3 linked regions of the Homo sapiens genome follow. The protein of the gene in region 3 interacts with the protein of the main gene of each other region in a pairwise test. Each region holds a gene or a part of one and is shown on either strand. Other genes may lie near its edges.

Region 1 (7,109 bases), on a different chromosome or scaffold from region 3:
AATTGGGTCAGGCAAAGGCATCTAAACATTGCTTTCCTCTTAAATCATCTTTGTTTAAACAGTTACTGTCTTTCAGTGATTAAAAACTACCTATCTTGTGAAAAGCGAGAGAAAACTTGAGTGAAATATAGTAAGGCTGTTTACCTAAGTGTTTTACTTAGATTTCCACAGGAAATAGTCAAGTTATTTCTGAAATGTGAAATGCCAGCATTCTATACAAACTAGGAACTCAAGAGCCTACTGGATCCCAGCCTTTTAAGTGTGAAATTATCTTTTTCATATCCAAAATTTTCAGTGACTCCTCTTCATGGCAGTAGTTTTGTTTTGTTTTTTGGTATTTGTTAAAACAATTAAAAATAACTTTTTTTCATATTTTACTATTTCAACAGATATCTTTTTAACTTGGAAAAATCATATGTAAACCATATTACATATAGTCATATGTTATTCAAGCAGATGATATTTTTGTATTAATTGGTTCATAAATATTCTGCTGTGTACCTGGACTTCATATTTTCCTAAAATAACTTGGGTTTTTCTGGAATGGGTAGTCCAGAAATTGAAAATCTCTAGTAGAAATTTATCATCTGGGGAGAGCTATATAACATTTTATGCTTTTAAATATTTAAGAACAGCATGATTTTTTAGGGTAAAGAATAAGACATTTTATTGTCGAGGGTATAGGTAAATTGATGTACTCTTACATAGCTGTTGGAAGTGTAATTGGAATAGCCTTTTTGGGAAGGGAAGTGTAGTTAGAGATATGAAGCCTTAAATCTATTCCTTTTCAAACCTCAACACCAAAACCTAGGAATTTGTCATAAAATATAACTGCAGTTTTTCATAGTAGTGAAACACTGGAAACAACCACGTGGCTAACACTGGGGGATGAACTAAGGTACACAGCTGTGCAACCGAAGAGGAAACTGTAAAAGCCTTTGAGACTACTGGGGAGATCTGAATAGGGCCTGAGGATGAGGTGAATCATAGTTCATTGTGCTGCTATGATAATTATGGTGGTTTAGAAAGTCTTTATCAATTTGAGATCCGTAAACAAAGTTCAGGAGAAGCAAGATTTGTAAAAGATTGCCAGTTATTAAAGCTGGGTGACAGATACAAGGGATTTATTCCACTAGTCTCTAATTTGGTCTGCGTTCGAAAATGTACATTAAAAAGTTTGGTCTGCGTTCGAAAATGTACATTAAAAAGTTTGGTCTGTGTTCGAAAATGTACATTAAAAAGTTAAAAACAAAAGCATAAAAGTATACATGTTTTCATAGGAAGAGGTTGTTCACAATATATTAAGTGAAAAAGGAACATTATAAAGTATTTGTTCACTATGACTATATGTTTTTTCCCTTTGCCCTTTTAATATATGTACATATATATTTATAACAAAAATAAATTTAAACTATACCCTAAAAATGTTAATCGTGGTCCTTTCTAGTCAGTGTGATTATGATTACATTCATTTTCCTTTGCTTAGCTTCTTATTCATGGGTGTCTCCCATGACTAGGTTTTTCTTATATTTTAAAAAGGTTTGAGAAAGAACAAACTCACAAACACAAGTTAAGTCACTGAGCTGTGTGCAGAGCTCACTATTTGCAAGGATCTCCCAGATGGGCAATGCCTGGCGTTCGCTGCCAGGACCGAATGACCAACAGCTGTCCTCTCTGTGCTGCTGCCCCGCATCCCTATTGCGTGTGACTCTTATTCCACCCAGAAATTGCAAATGCCACCTTGGGGCTCTGCAACAGGACACGGAGTTTAGTTTAGGGCCCTGATTATGTGTTTGCTAGAGAATTGCTGTTATGTGTTAAGCTTTTAGGAGCACAGCCAAATTTACAACTCATTTATTTTAAGGTTACTTTATTGTCATATTACTCTTATTTAACATTTTTTATTTATTTCCTCTTTCTTTGTTATTCCCTCCCCTGTGCCTTCCACATTCTACACCCTTTACCACAGGAGAGGTCTCTGTTAGCTTGCCGAACATACTACTCCGGACACATCTTTTCCAGTGGGCTGTATTTTCTGCTTTCATTCTAACTGTGCAAATTGTCATCATTTGTGCCCCAGCCAAAGCTCACCTTTCAACGGGGCTTTCCTCCTGCCCTCCAGCTTATGTTGATGAGATTCCCTTCCAGTCTGTTACTGCATCATTCAGCAGTGGTTTTATATTGTATTTGCATTCCGTATTTAATATCTCTTTAGAACCAAATTGTGAGCCTTGTTAGGTCAGAGACTTGTTGCATCCTTTGTGTCTCCATCCCTTAGTGCTGCTTGGCATATAGCATGAGCTCCATAAATACTGGATCTTGAATAGAGCTGTCCTATGCAAGTCAGCCAAGTCAGCCATGCTCCATGAGTGTACGTGATGCATTGGCGGCACTCTGCCACGCTGTTACTTTACTAACTGTCATGGAAAACCAAGCTTCTAAATATTATCAATCAGTAAAAACTTAGGTAGCAATTATTCATTTCATAATTTTCCATAGGATTACTAGCTCTACTTTTGTACTTAAAATATCATTTTAAAAAGTTAATTTTCAGCCAAGTCTTTTAAGACTCCTGCTACAGGTGTGAGACCTTCCTATGATCACTGCTGTATGGTTCCTTTTCACTTTTGCCTCATGTCCTCTGTCTAAAAGATCAAACGTTGCTTCTGTATAAAATTGTAATAATAGTTGCTCAACATTTCAACTGCATTCCTTGACTGAGTTTTTTCTAAAATGCGTAATTGTAGGAAATGTGATAAAATTTACAGCTTTGTTTTGTGTGTGTTTCTGCTTTCCTCGTAGGAGAAATACGAATGTGCTTTAAAGCGAGCAAGTATTAAAATTGTGACTCCTGACTGGGTTCTGGATTGCGTATCAGAGAAAACCAAAAAGGACGAAGCATTTTATCATCCTCGTCTGATTATTTATGAAGAGGAAGAAGAGGAAGAGGAAGAGGAGGAGGAAGTAGAAAATGAGGAACAAGATTCTCAGAATGAGGGTAGTACAGATGAGAAGTCAAGCCCTGCCAGCTCTCAAGAAGGGTCTCCTTCAGGTGACCAGCAGTTTTCACCTAAATCCAACACTGAAAAATCTAAAGGGGAATTAATGTTTGATGATTCTTCAGATTCATCACCGGAAAAACAGGAGAGAAATTTAAACTGGACCCCGGCCGAAGTCCCACAGTTAGCTGCAGCAAAACGCAGGCTGCCTCAGGGAAAGGAGCCTGGGTTGATTAACTTGTGTGCCAATGTCCCACCCGTCCCAGGTAACATTTTGCCCCCTGAGGTCCGGGGTAATTTAATGGCTGCTGGACAAAACCTCCAAAGTTCTGAAAGATCAGAAATGATAGCTACCTGGAGTCCAGCTGTACGGACACTGAGGAATATTACTAATAATGCTGACATTCAGCAGATGAACCGGCCATCAAATGTAGCACATGTAAGTCACTCTTTCCGAAAAAAATGTCAGTATTGGATCTTAGAATTGGATTTCACAGTCTATTTCAATGTAGTTTATTGGTTTTGCTTTTTCAGACCAAATAACTTACAAGCAGTATTTGTGTGAGAACCTGTTTACTTGTGTGTGTGTGTGTGTGTGTGTGTGTGTGTGTATGTGTATATATGTATATTTCAGGGTCATTGAAAAAGGGTAACAGCGTATTTTAAGTTGAAGATTTAAAGCAGCTGAGTAGAACCAGGATGTCAGTGATGGAGTACTATCCGTTGAAGGGTTTCCACTCTTACTTAGTTTAAAATTAGCAATGGCAGCAAAGAGAATAATGAAGTTTACCAGCTGTACCTGATTTGCTTATAATGAACTTCATGGTAGTAAATAAATAACACAAATTCATGCATTTGTTGAGGAAGGCTTGATTTCAGGTTACAGTTTATATAGCATGGAGCTTATTGATACAGAGTGGATCTTAAGTTTTGTTGCTGGTTGTTTTTTGTTTTGTTTTTGTTTTTTTTTTTTTTTTTGAGATGGAGTCTCACTCTGTCGCCCAGGCTGGAGTGCAGTTGCATGATCTCTGCGCACTGCAACCTCCACCTCCCGGGTTCAAATGATTCTCCTGCCTCAGCCTCCCGAGTAGCTGGAATCACAGGCATGTGCCACCATGCCTGGCTAATTTTTTTTTTTTTTTTTGTATTTTTAGTAGAGACAGAGTTTCACCATGTTGGCCAGCCTGGTTTTGAACTCTTGATCTCTAGTGATCCACCCACCTCGGCCTCCCAGAATGCTGGGATTACAGGTGTGAGCCACCACGCATGGCCTTAAAAGTTTTAAGTACATATATTTCTATTTAAGACAGAAAGAAGGTAGTTGAGGTGGTATATTGGCCACTCTGCATTTTTCTGGGCACTGGAGATAAAATTGTGACTAAGAAAACTAATTTAGGTAGAGAAGACATACAGTAAGTGGAGAAATATGAACAAAAGGACTGTTGATGGTGAAAGGTGTTTCAAAGAAAATAATCAGGGTCCCGTAATAGCAGGTGAAGGGAAGGAGGCTATTTTAGACGAGATGGTCAAGAAGGACCTCGGGCAGGAGGTGACTTAGATCAGGGTTGAATGACAAGGAGAGGCCATGTGAAGAACTGAGGGCACAGAGTTCCCAGGCAAAAGGAAGACCCAAATGGCATGAATTTGCTGAGTTCTAAGAAAAGAAAGTTAATGAAATTTGAACTTCATAAGGTGAATGAGTTCTAGGAAGGATTTAAAAGGGGCCTTGCCATATAGGGCCATAGTGAGGAGTATGGTCTTTCTTGGAAGGAAGCCACTGGGCTTTTGAGTTGGGGTGAGATGCACTCTGTGTAAACAGTGGATCTTTGAGGGGCAAGAGTGAAGCAGAGAGGCCCCTTAAGAGGACATAGAGTTGGAGTTTGAGACAGAAAAAAATGAATGGGAGGATCCAGCTTTCTGGCTTGAGCGAGTGAAGGAAGATGATGCTGTTTCAGAGATAAGGAACACTGGAAAGCTGCAGGTTTGAAGAACCTAAGTTTCTTTTCAGATGTGTTGGGTTGGAGGTATCTGATCCATGCAGGGGCTGTCTGCTACGTGGTGGAACCAGAGAAAACAAGGCTGACTGAAGCTGTGGAGGCGGATGTGAGAATGTGTAGTAGGTGGGGCAGAGCAAGAGGAGGGTCTGGGGCCAGGCTCTGAGGAGCCGCACCATTGAGAGCCAGCTGGGCTGTTCCATCTGATGGTGACACCCCGTCTGCCGCTTCACCTTGTTCTGGACACTTTCATTTCATAATGACAGCTCAAAGTCCCAGAAAAATGGCTCTGTAGCATATAGGAACAACCTGAAGCCGGATCCAGTATTCTCCACATCCACTTTCAGTGGAAAGGCTTGATGTTGATGAAGTGGGGAAATTCAGTATGGCGTAGGTATAAGGTGATGTTGACAATGATCATTTTATTGGGTATGATAATAGCAGTGGTTTACGTAGTGTTTAGAAATGCTGTGGGACAGACAAAATCTTTGTCTCCCCTCCCCTCCACCTAAGCAGCGAGTATTAGTAGTACACGGTTCTTGGGATGATGACAGCGGTTGGCTGGCATCCAGAGTAAGATAGAGGCAAACATGCCCTTTAGATGTTAGACAGCAGACAGTTAAGATGGTGGGGGAGAAGGTGAGCAGAGAGAGAAGGTCATCGGGTTTGAGGAGAATAGAAGATTTTCAAATAGGTGATTCATAGATAGGGAAGACTTTGGGTTTCTGGCTTGAGAGGTGGATGCCTGATAAAATGCCGAGCTGGCCTTCCTCAAGTCCTGGGTGGTGACAGTGCCTTGTAACTGAACAGCAGCTGCCCGTTAGGAGCTCTTGGGCCTGCTTCAGTGCCCACCGCTCCATGTCACCTTGTTGGGTCCCGGAGGAAAACAGGCCTGCCACTGACCATGGGTCTTGGGGGTGGTTGGGAATGTGTGGCTGAGGAAATGGGGAGAAGGCCACCAAGATGAGGAGGTCCAAGAGCTGCAAGGCCAGGGATTGTCCAGGTGGGTGCCCATGAGAGCGCTGGGGTCAGCCGAGTTTAGGGAAAAGGTAGATGCACAGAAGGAGCCAGCTCCAGCACCGCCCAATGCTGAGGGTGCCGGCCCTGGTCCCTGCACATCCGCGTCCAGGCAGGTGGGCGGGATAAAGCCACAGGGCACAGCCTCAGCCACAGAGCAGCAAAGTGACGATCACACAGTCGTCCTGAGAGCCAGAGGATGTCATGACAGGTAGAAAGTAAAGGCCATAAAGAATGACAGGCTAGAGGCAAAGAGGATTCTAGCATTTTTGACCTCAGTCATGAGAAGAGTGATGATACTGCTGAGGTGGAGGAATTGAGAAGGTGACCCAGTCCTGGCAGGAAGACTGCGGCCACGCAGTGGACCTGTCCTGTCAGCAGTGGGATATGCGAGATATGGGCCGTAAAGATCTCTCTCATAGGGTTGGTGTGAGAAATCATGGATTAAGCCTCTGGCACTTCGAGAAATGGCTACTTTCTCACTTTCTTTAGGTGAGAAATTATGGACAGAAGTCATCCATTTGAAATAGGAAATTTTCTTTGCTTTTCATTTATCTGTGGTGTCAAAAAGTGTTGGTCAGTTACTGCTGGTTAGTTACTACTTATTTCTAATATATATGTTTTGGTTGTTTTTTGAGACAGAGTCTCACTCTGTTGCCCAGGCTGGAGTGCAGTGGTGGGATTTCTGCTCACTGCAAACTGCACCTCCCTGGTTTAGGCGATTCTCTTGCCTCAGCCTCCTGAGTAGCTGGGATTACAGGTGCCCATTACCACGCCCGGCTAATGTTTGTTCATTTTTATTAGAGACGGGTTTTTGCCATGTTGGCCAGGCTGGTCTCGAACTCCTGACTTCAGGTGATCTGCCTACCTCGGCCTCCCAAAGTGCTGGGATTATAGGTGTGAGCCACCGTGCCTGGCCTTATTATGTTTTTCAAATACAATGGATGTTGGTTTAAATATAAAGTTCCTTAAGTTTGTATTTGGATATAGAGACAAAATAATTTACTTTGAAATGGAAAGAATTGACTGCAGTAGGGAGTTTGGGCACATCTCTGCACTGGAAATTGTCCTTAGGAGACAAATTTGATATACTCAGCTG
Region 2 (7,109 bases), on a different chromosome or scaffold from region 3:
CTCATGCCTGTAATGCTAGGACTTTGGGAGGCTAAGGCAGGCAGATCATTTGAGGTCAGGAATTTGAGACCAGCCTGGCCAACATGGTGAAAGCCCCTCTCTACTAAAAAGTACAAGAGAAAAAAAAAATTAGCTGGGCATGGTATTGCACGCTTGCAACCCCAGCTACAAGGGAGGCTGAGGCACGAGAATTACTTGAACCCAGGAGGCGGAGGTTGCAGTGAGATAAGATTGCACCAGTGGACTCCAGCCTGGGCGACAGAGTCTTAACTCTGTCTCAAAAAAAAAAAAAAAAAAAAAAAAGGAAAAAAAAAGGCACCTGAATTCTGGACTCTATCTTCACATGTATTGTTTTTAATTTCTTATAGGCAACAGTATAGAGAATATGTGCATTTATTTTCAAGGACAGAGAAGGCAGAGCATGTTAAACTACCCTCCTACCCAATGACTCATGGATAAGGATAACAGAAACAGGAACAAAATAACAGGTGGGAGCAGGTATAAAGAAGTCAGTTAAAGAGCTGAAATCCTGGGCCCTGTTGGCAAAAAAAAAAATGCAACAAGAAGACGCCTGTGGGCCGGCTGCCGCACAGCCACGGGCCTAGATGCTTTCATAGGGCACTTCAAGACTAAGGTGCTGCTGAATTACTTGTTGCAGGGACTAGCAAATCTGGCCAGCTACCTGCTTTTGTAAATAAAGTTTTATTGGCACCCAGCCATGCTCATTCATTTATGTAATGTCATTCATTACGTAATGTCTGTGACTGCTTTCATACTAGAAGAGTTGAGTGGCTGCGGCAACTGGCAAAGCCTATTTTCTGCCAGGCCCTTTACTGAAAAAGTTTGCTGACTTCACCTATGCTAAACAACTAACATTTCGAAATTAATGTGGTCACAATTTTACCTAAGAAAGTTAACTTCAGAATGATACGGGCAACTTATTTCTTCCTCTATGCCTTTCTTTTCTCAACTGTAAAATTGGGATAACAATCATGCCTACTTCTTAAGACTGCTGGGCAATTAAATGAGCTGAGATAATGCAGGATTAAAGCACTTAGAATAGTGTATAAATACCAGATATCCATTAAATGCTACTGTAATGCAGCTAGGTACGTTTGGCTCAGGGTCAAATTCCCAGTGGAATTTAAAATGTGCTGTAACTCTAAATAAATGATGGTACAATTATGCAATGGATTATTCTGCAGCTGTAGAAAAGAATGAAGACATTTAATATACTGATATGGAAAAATCACCATGATATATTCATCAGGCAAAAAAAGAAAATGCAAGCTGCAGAACAGTGGGTATAGCATCTGCCTTTTATATTTTAAAAAGGAGGAAAATTAAGATTGTGTATTTGTACTTTCTCGTATATGCATAAAGAGACAATAACAAGCTACCAGTCGGGGCTGAGGAGCACTGGAAACCAGGCATAAAGGGAAGGGGTGGGATAGATTTTTCTTTGTGTAACATTTTATATATGTATATATATATATATTTTTTTTTTCCTGAAGGAGTCTCGCTCTGTCACCGAGGCTGGAGTGCAATGGTGCGACATTAGCTCACTGCAACCTCTGTCTCCCAGGTTCAAACAATTCTCCTGCCTCAGCCTCCCAAGTAGCTGGGATTACAGGTGTGCGGCACCACACCTGGCTAATTTTTGTATTTTTAGTAGAGATGGGGTTTCACCATGTTGGCCAGGCTGGTCTTGAACTCCTGACCTCGTGATCCACCCATCTTGGCCTCCCAAAATGCTGGAATTATTGGCATGAGCCACTGTGCCCGGTCCTTTTTAAAAACTTTTGAACCACGTGAATGGATTACCTATGAAAAAATTAAATTAAAAATGCTGTGTCTCAAACAGGTTAGAAGGGAGTACAGATGCTGTGCTCTGGAAATTGCTAGGTTAGTTCAAATGTGCCTCCCATGAAGACACCAACATTAAAAGGCACGTGAAGCATCTAAATGCGAGTCAAAAAATGCGAATGAAAAAACACATGTGATAAATATGATTTAAAATATGTATATACCATGGCATTAAATTAATGGTAAAACAAAAATTTGGCTGTCACACCTCTATCTTCAAGAGTTAATCTAGTCAAAGGCTGTTCTTAGGTTCTTTGCCTTTAAAGGAAAACATCTTGCATCTGGGCTTATACTTCATATTCTTCTCTAGAAATCCAGCAAAATGGAAACATGCAGAATACCTAGTGAAATTTCTCCCTCCTCCCCAACCACCCGACCCTTTTCTATGCATTTACATGCATGTATACAAACACGTTTATCCTATACCTATTATACCAAAATTTGCTTTTTTCACTAAATAGTGTCTTTATCTTTCTAGGATATAAACATAGATCTCCTTTTTCCTTTAATGGCTACATAGTATTTCATAGTATTTTCTAATTTATTCAACCATTATCTATTTGTAACCTACCTCCATTTTTTTTTTGCTATTTTACACTGTACTGCTATGAATATCCTTGTGCACACATCTTTCTACTTCTGCAAGATAAATACATAGATATGGAACTGGGCAAACTCGACAGAACTACTGAGGATGATTTAGATTTATAATTTGCCTCATAACAAATCAATTTCAGATAGAAGAGTTACATGTATTTTTAATGAACCAAATCAGAAGAGCTGACAGGTAATGGAATATTAACAATTAAAATACAAAAGCATTGGTATGCAACAAGATCTACAAAAAAGAAGAAAAATAAAATGCAAAGGCATCAACAGATGGATTTAACTCTAAAAGTATAAAAACTTAATACAATACAAATTCATAACACTAACAAAAAAGGATAAAGAATGCATAAAATGTTTGTAACACATATAAAAATGTACTAGTATCGGGATCCAATAACTAAATGCTAAATGGGCAATAAAAGGAAATTAAAAAGAGTAAAAATTAAAGTAATAGGTACTAATGTGTAACTATTAGCAATTTTTCCAGGTGAAGATTATCGTTACAATTAAAAAAAAAAGAAATTTTACAAAGCATGTCTTAAAAATAAAGACCGCTGGAGCTTCAGGGAAACCAAAGAACTGAGGGAAAAGCAAATTGGTAACACTGATTAAAATTGAAAATATCTGTGTTTTTTGATACTATGCTTGGAAATTTATTTTGTGGAGATAATTCAAAGGAAGGAAGGAGCAGGAGGTCTTTAAACAAAGTTGATCACTGCAGCATTATTTGGAAGTAAAAGGAGTGAAACCTAGATGTTAACAATAACACTTAGGATAAACGACACTATGTTGAAACACAGTTCACATTAAATTATTAGTTTTTGAGACAGCGTCTTGCTCTGACCCCCAGGCTGGAGTGCAGTGGTGTGATCTCGGCTCCCTGCAACCTCCATCTCTTGGACTCAAGTGATTCTCTCACCTCAGCCTTTCAAGTAGCTGGGACTACAGGTGTGTGCCACCACACCTGGCTAATTTTTGTATTTTCTACAGAGACAGAGTCTCACCATGTTGCTCCTGGGCTCAAGTAATCTGCCCTTCTCGGCCTCCCAAAGTCCTAGGATTACAGGTGTGAGCCACTGCACCTGGCCCCAAGTTATTATTATTATTATTATTTATTTCTTTTTTGTGAGACGGAGTTTCGCTCTTGTTGCCCAGGCTGGAGTGCAATGGCGCGATCTCAGCTCACTACAACCTCCGTCTCCCGGGTTCAAGTGACTCTCCAGCCTCAGCCTCATGAGTAGCTGGGATTACAGGCATGCACCACCTCGCCCAGCTAATTTTGTATTTTTAGTAGAGACAGGGTTTCTTTATGTTGGCCAGGCTGGTCTCGAACTCCCAACCTCAGATGATCTGCCTATCTTGGCCTCCCTAAGTGCTGGGATTACAGGTGTGCACCACCGCACCCAGCCCAAAAATTATTTTTAAAAGCAGAAGACTGTGGAAATAGTGGATATGTAAAGGTAATGGGATTATGAATATGGTTTCTTGTTAATGTCCCCTTAATATATGATATTTTTCAAGGCCACTGAGTCTATAAAATAAGGAAAAACGTTAACAGGGAAGATGGGAGTGATAATTTCCTGGAATGGGACTGGTTTTTCTGGACATCATGAGATACTGCTCTCCATGATTAAACAGCAATTGACATAAATTCAACAATAATATAATAAAAATCTCAGTGAATCAAGTTTTCATAACACAAAAATGTTGTACACGCTAGTGGTTCTATAAATAACACATGCTTTAACATCAAGACACTTCAGGGCAAAGACACAAAGTACTAAACGGAATATAACAAACTTATTTTTGTATTGATAAATACTTACCAAGTAATAACTGTAGTATATAAAATATAAGTCCAAAGACACTGTTTGGCTGGTTTAATACACCATCCTTTCCAAAAATGGAACCCAAAAGACCAAATCCTCGACCCCATCTGTAAAATAAGGAAAACCAGTAACCCTATATTTGAATTTCCCTATTTTAAAAAATGTATCATTATTTGAGAACGTTATCCAATTCTAAAATCAACTAAGTTGTGAAATGTCTTAAATGTCCTGTGTTGAGAGAGTGATTTGCCCCAAAGAGAGGGAGGCCAGTCACTAGATTTCTGATTAGAAATAATCATCTAAAATGAACATATCTAAAGGTGCCAGTATACCCATCTGAATCTCTCAGTTGCCAATTTCTATATATTCTCTTCTCCAGAAGGTAGGGCAAAGTATTCGTTTTCCAATGGCATTAGTATTTGCAGAAGGAGACTTCTCTATGCAGAAGGAGACAGTTGTCCACTGTCTCTTAACAGTGGACTACTGACATTTTGGGCTAGATAATTCTTTGTGCTGTGGGGTGTTCTGTGCATTACATAACTAACAGTACCCCAGAGCTCCCCCAACTAGATGCTGCCAGTACTCCTCCATCCCAGGTGTGACTACCAAAAATGCAGTCACAGCCATTGCCAAACATCCGCTGGGACACGACTGCCCCCAGTTGAAAACCATAGAATGTAAGTTGTGCTATTTATTCACTCAAAGAATATAGATTGAAAAGTTGTTTCTTCACAAATTTCACCAGGATATGCATTAAGAAATATACTGGGAATGTATTTTTTAAATGTAGGGCCGGGCCCGTGGATCACACCTATAATCCCACCACCTTGGGAGGCCGAGGCGAGCAGATCACAAGGTCAAGAGTTCGAGACCAGGCTGGCCAGCATGGTGAAACCCGTCTCTACTCAAAATACAAAAAATTAGCCGGACATGGTGGTGTGCACCTGTAATCCCAGCTAGTTGGGAGACTAAGGCAGGAGAATCACTTGAACCCTGGAAGCAGAGGTTGCAGTGGGCCGAGACTGCACCACTGCACTCCAGCCTGGGCAACAAGAGCAAAACTCCATTTCAAAAAAAAAAAATGCAGGATAATATCAGAAACTATAGGTCTTTCCTGGAATCCTATCTCAGATGTAAAAAACTGGATACATTATATGCCCTATCAGTTTTTATTTGCAATTTAACTTTAAATCTTGCATTTGACTTAACATTTTTAAAACCTGATTTTTTTTAAATTGTTAACTTATTTGATAAAACTTGATACAAATATCAAACATTCATTTTGAATAAAAAACCTTTAAAGATAATGTTAACTCTGGATTGAACGAGAGTGCTTCTTAAATACTAAAAAAAAAAAAAAAAACCAGTTATGGTGTTAAGTCAGTAGAGAATCAGTCTAAACAAAATCTAAACTTTGGTTCTGAAGACAAACTGCCCCAAAGCAAGGATAAATAAGTAATTCTTCACAGGCCACAATAGTTTAATAGCACTTGATGCCCAAGATATAGAATGAAACCCCTGTATAACGATGATGTTGGGAGAGAAAAATCACCCCGATTTTACAAACAAGTGAAAGCCATGAAGATTTTTATTGTAGAATTATGCAATCCTTTTTGTTTGTTTTGTTTTGTTTTGTTTTTTTGAGACAGGATGTTCCTCTGTTGCCCAGGCTACAGTGCAGTTGCAATCATGACTCACTGCAGCCTTGACCTCCGAGGTTCAAGTGATTCTCCTGCCTCAGCCTCCCGAAGTAGCTGAGACTACCACACCCAGCTATATATATATATTTTTTTTTTGGTATTTTTTTATAGAGTTGCAGCTTTGCCATGTGCCAAGGCTGGTCTTGAAGTACTGGACTCAAGCAATCCTCCCACCTTGGCCTCCCAAAGTGCTGGGATTACAGGCTGAGCTATGACACCCAGCCTTCAGTTATACATTTCAAAGAACATAAAATAATTTCCATTATATTCATTTATTCTTTCACTCATCTAAATACTTATTGAGCATGTACTGTGTGCACTGACGCTACGTGCCGGGGATCCAGAAGTGAACGAGCCAGACGAGGTGCTGCCCTTGTGGACCTTAAATTCTATTTAGGGAAGAGAAATAATAAACAGGTAAACAAATGCCAGATTACCTGCAGCAATGGACACACCTTGTAACAGATACACAGGAAAATTAGAAGGGGAAACTCTAGATCAGTGCTTCTGAAATTTTTAAAGCACAATCACTCTGGGGTCTGGTTAAAATGTAGCTGTTCCTTCAGTGGGTCTGTGGTGGGGCCTAAGACTCTGCATTTCCAGAGAAAACACAACACAAAATGAAATGCTTGCAGGCAACACTGACGCTTCTGGTCTGAAGCCCACACTTGGAGATCCATAGCTGTGGGCAGAGAAGGGGTGCAGCAAGCTCCTCTAGCTTGATGGTCGGGAAGGACCTTTTCCAGGAATGAAGTTTTGAATGAGATCCTGAGTGATGGTAAGCAATCGGTCTCATGAGCAATGGCAAGTCAAAGGCCTTGAGGTAGGAATGAGCTGTGGGTGTGCCAAGGAAGGCCACTGAGGCTGGGGCATGGTGATTGAGGAGAGTGACAGGAGAACTGGGAGCGAGTCCAATCATTTACATTATTTAGGGCCTTGTGTGTAGGCCATGCCGAAGAGTTTGAATTTTATTCTAATTGCTATGAAAGACGTTTAGTAGCTTTCAAACTGGAGAGTGAGATAAGCTTATTTATGATCACTCTTCGCTGCTGCATAAAGAACAAACTGCTGGAGGCCAGAGTACAGATGGGGAAACTATATGTAA
Region 3 (7,994 bases):
GGATTATAGGCGTGAGCCACCACGCATGGCCTGTCATTACTTTTAATGGTAAAAACTGCAATTACTTTTGCACCAACCTAATACCATAGTGCTAAAGACATAAGAGGTACTCAATAAACAGTAGAAATAATCATGATAGTCCTTGTTAGGGACAGCACTGATCTGACAAGTTCTCACAGAAGGCATGCTCTTCTTGTAGAGGTCATGGGACTCAGAAGCCCTGTTCCTAAACATTCTCTGGGACTTTTCTGAACAGCCTACCTCCAACATGTTTCCTCTGCCTCTGCTAACTGGAGATAGGACTTTAGGACTTTGCTCCAGCTTTGTTCCTCGGTTTCAGCTTTTTTGTTTCCTCTCACTGAGGTCTGTGCATCTTTCTATTTGCTCATGAGCTAACCATGCCTGTCTCACCCCAACCCTAATACCCAGCTCTTGATGACTTTGGGGAGGACAGTAATGTTCATTGTTTTTTTCTAATTATAAGACTAATATAGGGTTGGTGCGGTGCCTCATGCTTGTAATCTCAGCAATTTGGGAGGCCGAGGCAGGCAGATCGCTTGAGCTCAGGAGTTCAAGACCAGCCTGGGCAACATGGTGAAACACCATCTCTACAAAAAATTAGCCAGGCGTGGTTGCGTGTCCTGTAGTCCCAGCTACCTGGAAGGCTGAGGTGGGAGGATCACCTGAGTCTGGGAGGTCGAGGCTGCTGTGATCACGTGACTGCACTCCAGTCTGGGCAACAGAGTGAGACCCTGTCTCAAAAAAAAAAAGAATAATATATGCTCATTTTTGAATATATATATATATATATATATATATATATATATATATATATTTTTTTTTTTTTTTTTTTGAGATGGCATCTCGCTCTGTTGCCCAGGCTGGAGTGCAATGGCGTGATCTCGGCTCACTGCAACCTCCGCCTCCGAGGTTCAAGCGATTCTCCTGCCTCAGCCTCCAGAGTAGCTGGGACTACAGATTCCTGCCAACACGCCCAGCTAATTTTTATATTTTTAAAATAGACGGGGTTTCACTGTTTGGCCAGGATGGTCTCGATCTCTTGACCTCATGATCCACCCACCTCAGCCTCCCAAAGTGCTGGGATTACAGGCGTGAGCCACCGCGCCCAGCCTTGAATATTTGTTAAAGGCAGAAAAATTTGTTTTAAAGTAAAACAAAAATCTTCCATAACCCCACAGTTTAAAGATTTCACTTTTAGCATCTTGATATATTTCCTTCCAATGCTTTTTTCTGTGCATGTACATATGACATAATTGGGCTCATGTTTTTGGAATCACATTTTGCAGCCTGCTTTTCTAACACTATAATGCTAACACGTGCCCATAACATTAGAATTTCTTCAAAAACATGACTCTTAGTGAGTGTACAATACTATATTATATGGACTTATTTTTATTTGAACTATTCCTACTATTGCTGTAAGTTGTATCTTTTTTGCCTTTTATAAATAATTCTGCATTAAGCATCTTTGTACATAATTATTTGTGTGCTTCTCTATTTCTTTTGGGATAAATTACCAAGTGGAATCCCTAGGTCAAAGGGTATGAATATTCTAAAGGCTGTTAGCATATACTGACAAATATCCTCTATGGAATTTCTAATGAAGTTAACACATGCATGGATTTTTTGAAATCATTACCATAATCAAGATACATAATGATTCTTGGACGGCCACAGTGGCTCACGCCTATAATCCTAGCACTTTGGGAGGCCGAGGAAGGTGAATCACTTGAGGCCAGAAGTTCCAGACCAGCCTGGGCAACACAGTGAAACCCTGTCTCTACCAAAAATATAGAAAGATTAGACAGGAGTGGTGGCATACACCTGTGGTCCCAGATACTTGGGAGGCTCAGGTGGGAGGATCGCTTGAGCCTGGGAGACAGAGGTTGCAGTGAGCTGAGATTGCACCACTGCATTCCAGCCTGGCAACAGAGTAAGATCCTGTCTGAAAAAAAAAAAAAAAAAAAAAGCTACATAATAATTCCATTACCCCAATAAACTCTCTCCTGCTATCCCTTCATAGTCATCCCCTTCATAACCCTTATGGAATATTTAGCTCTGTAGTGTGGAATTAACTGATCATTCTTAGCTAATTGTCTTGATAGCATTACAATGCCCCCAAGTTAAAATAACTCACTCAAGTATTATCAAGAAGTTTCTGAGTCAGGTTGTAGCAGCTGCCAGGACTGGTCTCCAAAGTGGGTGGATCTGTTAAGGACTCCTCTCAGAGTGGTGCCTGAAAGAGCCTATTTCTGCCATTAAGACTGCAAGACATGCTGAGATTCAATCACAGGACTGTGGGGAGAGGAGCAGGAAGAAGCCAGGACTAGGCTGGAGCAGAATTAGTGGGAATGGAATTAGTTATAGAGCTGACCCTCAGGGCAGTTAGACAGAAGTCTAAATTTCAAAGTTCAAGGACTTGGGATGAGTAAGTGTCAGGTGTGACGGACTTAGCACAAAGTAGCACTGAAAGCTAAGGATTTGATGTGGGTAATACAATGAAGATATCCTAGGCAAAGGCAGTATCTTGGTTCAATGGGACAGGGGAGGATTAGGAGGAGAAGAAGGTGAGGAAGGGAGACAGAAGATATTGGGAGTCTAAAGGAATGGCCTAGGCTCTTGGACAAGAGTTCACAAGGACTCAGCTAGACATCAGAACTCTTTAAAATGAGCAGGTGAACAGGTGAACCTCTCATTCTGGAGAGAGAATTAGGTGACCAATTAGGAACCAAGGGGTGGCTCAGTGGCCAAGAATACAGTGGGGTTTAGGTGCTTTCCAATGTGAACAGTGACTCTAAGGTAGTGGTTTGTAAACTTTAGCGTGGGTCAGAATGCCTCCCAAACCAGGAGGTTTTGATTCAGTAGGTCTGGAGTGGGAAGCCAGAATTTCTGATTCAGTAGGTCTGGGGTGGGGATCCAGAATTTCTGACAAGTGACCAGGGCTGCTGCTGCACTTCTTGGAGAAGTACACTTTGAGAACCACTGCTCTAAGGCAAAAATACATATATTGAGATTAGAATAACCATGTCATTTGCACGTCACCCAGTACACGTAGGAAAAGGGCTCCTAAATGTAACACAGGGCTTGGCTCTTCCAGGTGATGAGCTGGTAGAGTTAAACCTGCTGCTGGAAGTGTTTTGTGCTTCCAGGAGGGCAAATAGGGTAGGAAGCATCACTGGAATTCTCACAACACTGGAGTTCTGTCCTGTATAGGTCATAATACTCTTAAGTGATGTTATTCTGACTTAAAGGGCCAGCATCTAAAACTGTCAAACTGTAATTCTCTGCTACAGAATCCATTTTCTTCTTCTTTTAGGACTAGCCCTCTTTGCTTATTGAGGAGTAATAAAAATAATGTCCCCTTATATTAGCATAGCACGTTCTAATTCAAAAAGTGCAATGACATGATATCTCATTTGATCTCCTTTCTGTGATGGAGGCAAGCCCGGTATTTTTATCCCATCCTTTGGGCTACTGATTCTCAAAGTATAGTTCCCAGACCTGCAGCATTAACAACACCCAGAAACTCTCTAGAAAAGCAAATTCTGACCCCACCCCAGACTTACTGAATCAGGTCCGGGGTCTGGCAGGGGGCCAATAATTCGCATTTCTAACAAGTTCCCTGGTGATGCTGATGTTGGTGCTGCTGGTCCCAGACCACACTTGAATGAAAACCACTACTGTAGATAAAAATGAAAGATGTAGAAGCCCAGGGACTTGTCCTAAGAGGACTCCTGCCTAGATCCTTTTCTTACTACACCTGCTGCATCCCTGGTCCCTACGCGCCCGCCCCCACCACCTCGCCCTTCGCAAAAAAAAAAAAAAAAAAAAAAAAAATTCCTTCAAATCCCAGCTGCATTATTTTAGAATTTTGTGAATGTGAATACCTGTAAAATGAGGATAACAATAGGATCTACCTCTTTGGGTTCTCACAAAGATTAAACAAGAACTAGGTAAAGTACTTAGCACCGTGCTTGTGCTTAATAAATGCCAGGGATCATCATGATTTTTTATTAATATTAAAAGTGACAATTCACAATGAATACCTTGGTAAGTTCTTTGGATGTGTGTCTTCAGAATGCTCCTCTTAAAATGTGAATGTCCCTAGATAATGTAGACATTAAAGCACCTGATCGTTAACATTCCATCTCTGATTGCCATGAGCATTTGGCTGAGAGCAGGGTACTTCGGAAATGGGACCCACGACTGGTAAAGTAGGAACCAAGAGAAAATAGAGCAGTGCATGGAACAGTGTATTGAAAGGCACACAACAGCAAGACTTCTTGAGGAAACTTTGAATAGCTGGGGAAGGGGAAGAGTGGCTGACAGAGGAAGCAACTGCGAAAGGGCAGCCAGGAGTAGGAGGCAGGCTGTTAAAGACAATCTACCTCCTTCAAAGTTCCCCCTAGGGCAGCCCCAGGGGAGGGCTCCAGGGCTACACCAGGCCACGAGGGGATCTGCCAGGGTTCACGTTGCATGAAGTCCAGGGGTCGAACACTCAGGTGCCCATAGTGAATGCCCGGAGGGGCCCTCCACTGGCAATTAGCACAATGAATTTGGGCTCAAAAGTGGCTTTGTCTTCAGGGTGACTCCTATTTGGCAAATATCCTGACTACAGCACATCATGCACTAGCTCATCCCAGGGACATGGTCCTTTATTAGTGGAGGTCTGCTATGTTGTTTCTCAAGGCGTCCTAGGCCCCTCAGGAAGCGGTTTTATGTTATCTGGGTGGCGCAGCCCGGGTCCCGTGCCCAGAGAGGACGGAGACCTTTGCAACTGAATTAAACAGAAGAAACAAAAGCAGCAAGTTCGGGCCCGTGGGTACGGAGGGCTAGCCAATGGGGCCCGGCCGCTTCCCGGCGGAGTGGTACTATGATGACAGTAGCCAACCAGCGCGCTCTATGCAAATGAGATACTGTATCCCGCACCAGCCGCTTCAGTGTCGTCTGGTTGTTATAGTGATAAACTGAGGCCTTGCCTCTTGGCTTCTGGGAGAGAGAGAGAGAGAGAGGGGCGGGGGGTAACCTCTTTACTTCCCCTAGGGAAGACAGAAAGAAGGGGAGAAGAAGCGGGGGGATGGGTGGAGGGTAGAGGGGAGAAAAATACGTGACAAAGAAAACATTCTCTGCCTGGGAGGAGACTCTCTGAGGGTGTAGAGCTAGAGGGAGCATTCACTGGCCATGCCAGTAGTTACCACTGATGCTGAGTCAGAAACAGGTATCCCAAAATCCCTTTCCAATGAGCCTCCCTCAGAAACCATGGAGGAAATAGAGCACACATGCCCACAGCCTCGACTGGTAAGTAAAGACAAAGGATGGAAATGTATGCGTGGCTATGGCATAAAAGAGTTCCTTATGCGCCCGCAGCCAGCGAGGAAAACGATGCTTAGAGGATTTTCATGTAAATGAGAAGAGCGCTACCGCCTAATCCTTCTCAGCTGTTTATACTTAGCTTCTATACCGGGCGCTGCTCTCAGTTTACAAAGCGTTATTGTATTGGCTGGGTAGGAAACGGGCTGCTTGGGATATGCTGTGTTTTTGTGCTTCGGGAGGAGGGGAGGGCCTTTTTCCTTTTAGGTGTGTTCTTGTCTGAAGGTAAAAAAATCCTACAGTGCAATTTTAAAATGGTATTCTCTTTACCAAGCTCGGGAAGAGTCCCTTGTTAAGTTTTAAATTCTAGCTAAGGAATGCTTCGTTCCTCAACTGATTTTGGTGCCTAATGCCAATTTGGGGGGAAAAAAATGGAAACATGGAAGCAAAACTTCCCCATCCGTTTGAAAATGTTCAAAATAAATAAATAAATAAATACATAGGAGTCCCTCAATGATTTAGTTAGAAATAATACGCATTTAAAACGAATTGTAAAACATTTCCAGAGTGTGCTGTGAGGGTTTCTCTTCAGGTAGTGGAAACCTGGGGAGCTACATTTATTTAGAAAGGGGTTGCATGCCTTTAAGAATGAAAGTGTGGAAACGGGGTACTGAGAGCGTCCTTCCGCCTCCGTAACTGCACCGTAACTGCTCTCCCAAATTTGGTCGTCTCTCTATCCCTGGTCATGATCTTTTAGGTAGATGTGAAACTTCGTTCCCAACCACCTCAGCATGTGTCCTCAAGGAATCAAAAACACGCATGGGTGGTGGGTTTTCTGTGGTCCGAAGTCTTGTGGAACTTGGGGAGACCTCTCTTTGAGTCCCCCAATCCAAAAGACACACTAGTTAAAGCTATCCTTTCCTTTAGCGATTTCCCTCAAGTTAAAAGGTGGAATATTTTGATTGGCTGTGGAGTTTGACCCTGGGAAGAGTTTTTTAAAAAAGGATTTTGTGATGTAGCATTTTCTGTGAACCTGCAAAATTAGGGCTCGCAGATGAGAAGGCCAACCCATCATAAAACTGTTATTTCTTAATAAGAGTTAATAAGGGTTCAAAGGAGGCTTAGAACAACTTCCTAAAAAGCACAAATACAGAGGAAGTTATATTAGAGCCCTGTGGGCTTTTTTCCCCTATGCTTCTATTTTTAAAAATGTTTTCTCTTAGGGCAGTTTAATAGTAACTGTGCCCTAGCACTTTAGCCACTTACTGAATGACATACACAGTGCAGTGTCTATGTTCTCATGAGATACAAACCATCCCAATAAGTTTGTTACTAAGGGATTCCTTTGAGTCACTAAACAACTTATGGTTTAGCATAAAGGAAAATGACCACTAAAAGCATATTACAAGATTATCATATGCACATATACATATATACACATAAATAGAGAGAGAGACTCACTCTGTTTTCCAGGCTGGCCTCAAACTTGAACTCCTGGACTCAAGTGATCCTCCTGCCTCAGCCTCCCAAGTAGCTGGGATTACAGGCTTGTGCCACAGCACTGGACCAATATATATATGTGTGTATATATATATATGTATATACACACATATATACATATATACACACATATGTATATATATTTGTGCCCATGCTTACCCAAAAATATATTTTTTAAAGTAACCACAATCTTCAAATTTGCATCACATACCTTCCTGACAGAGGTAAAGGGCAGAGGAGAGAAAGGCGGCATCCAGCTCCAGTTTGTGCATCATTTCAGTCTCTTTTGCCTACTATTTTTCCTTCCATTTTTACCTCTTAGCTATTCTGCTTCTTGATTGCTTCTGCCTGAGGGAGATGGGCAGAGAAAATTAAGGGAAAGAAGAAAGTTCAAGTTACTTTCTTGTTTTTTTAAGATGGAGTCTCACTATGTCCTCCAGGCTAGAGTGCAGTGGCCTGATCTTGGCTCACCACAACCTCCACCTCCCAGGTTCAAGCGATTCTCCTGCCTCAGCCTCCTGAGTAGCTGGGATTACAGGTGGGCAGCACCATGCCTGGCTAATATTTTTTTGTATTTTTGGTAGAGACGGGGTTTTGCCATGTTGGCCAGGCTGGTCTCGAACTCCTGCCCTCAGGTGATCCGCCCACCTTGGCCTCCAAAGTATTGGGATTACAGGTGTGACCCACTGCACCTGGCCAAGTTACTTTCCACTTTCACTCGTGACAGCTTATTCCAGGTGGTAACTCACAAGAACCACGCAAAGCTGGCAATGTGCTCTACACCCTCACCTCCCACCCATTGTAGAAATAAGGAAACTGAGGTTCAGAGAGGGTAAGTGACTTGCCCAAGGGTCACACTGCTTTGAAGGGGGCAGAGCTGGGATTTGAACCCAGAGCTCTACACCGGAAAAGTGGAAGATCTTTCTTCTATAACATACTCATAAGTGAGATACATTCCCTTCCCATCTTTTTGGCAGTTCTGGTTTCGTGTGTGTGTGTGTGTGTGTGTGTGTGTGTGTGTGTGTGTATCATGCACATGCATAGGTATGATACAGATGTACATAAGTTGAACTGTTGAAGCACCTGCTTTGATTTACTTATGATACAAAATTTTCCACGTTGTTCATCATTGTCATGGGCTACTGAAATTTGACTCTGTTTAA

What was found.
Region 1: the proteins of PCYT1B (region 3) and PAXIP1 interact in a two-hybrid assay, tested with the Homo sapiens proteins (one study listed by BioGRID).
Region 2: the proteins of PCYT1B (region 3) and VKORC1L1 interact in binary tests that used the Homo sapiens proteins (3 or more experiments, as listed by UniProt).

Annotation. Positions count from the first base shown.
Region 1 is NC_000007.14:154,972,025-154,979,133, reverse strand, and holds part of PAXIP1 (PAX-interacting protein 1), read left to right. Parts: intron 1-2,802; coding exon 2,803-3,438; intron 3,439-4,228; exon of another isoform or gene 4,229-7,109.
Region 2 is NC_000007.14:65,945,973-65,953,081, reverse strand, and holds part of VKORC1L1 (vitamin K epoxide reductase complex subunit 1-like protein 1), read right to left. Parts: intron 4,412-7,109; coding exon 4,302-4,411; intron 1-4,301. UniProt on the Homo sapiens protein: Involved in vitamin K metabolism. Can reduce inactive vitamin K 2,3-epoxide to active vitamin K, and may contribute to vitamin K-mediated protection against oxidative stress.
Region 3 is NC_000023.11:24,644,314-24,652,307, reverse strand, and holds the start of PCYT1B (choline-phosphate cytidylyltransferase B), read left to right. Parts: upstream 1-4,960; 5' UTR 4,961-5,202; coding exon 5,203-5,319; intron 5,320-7,994.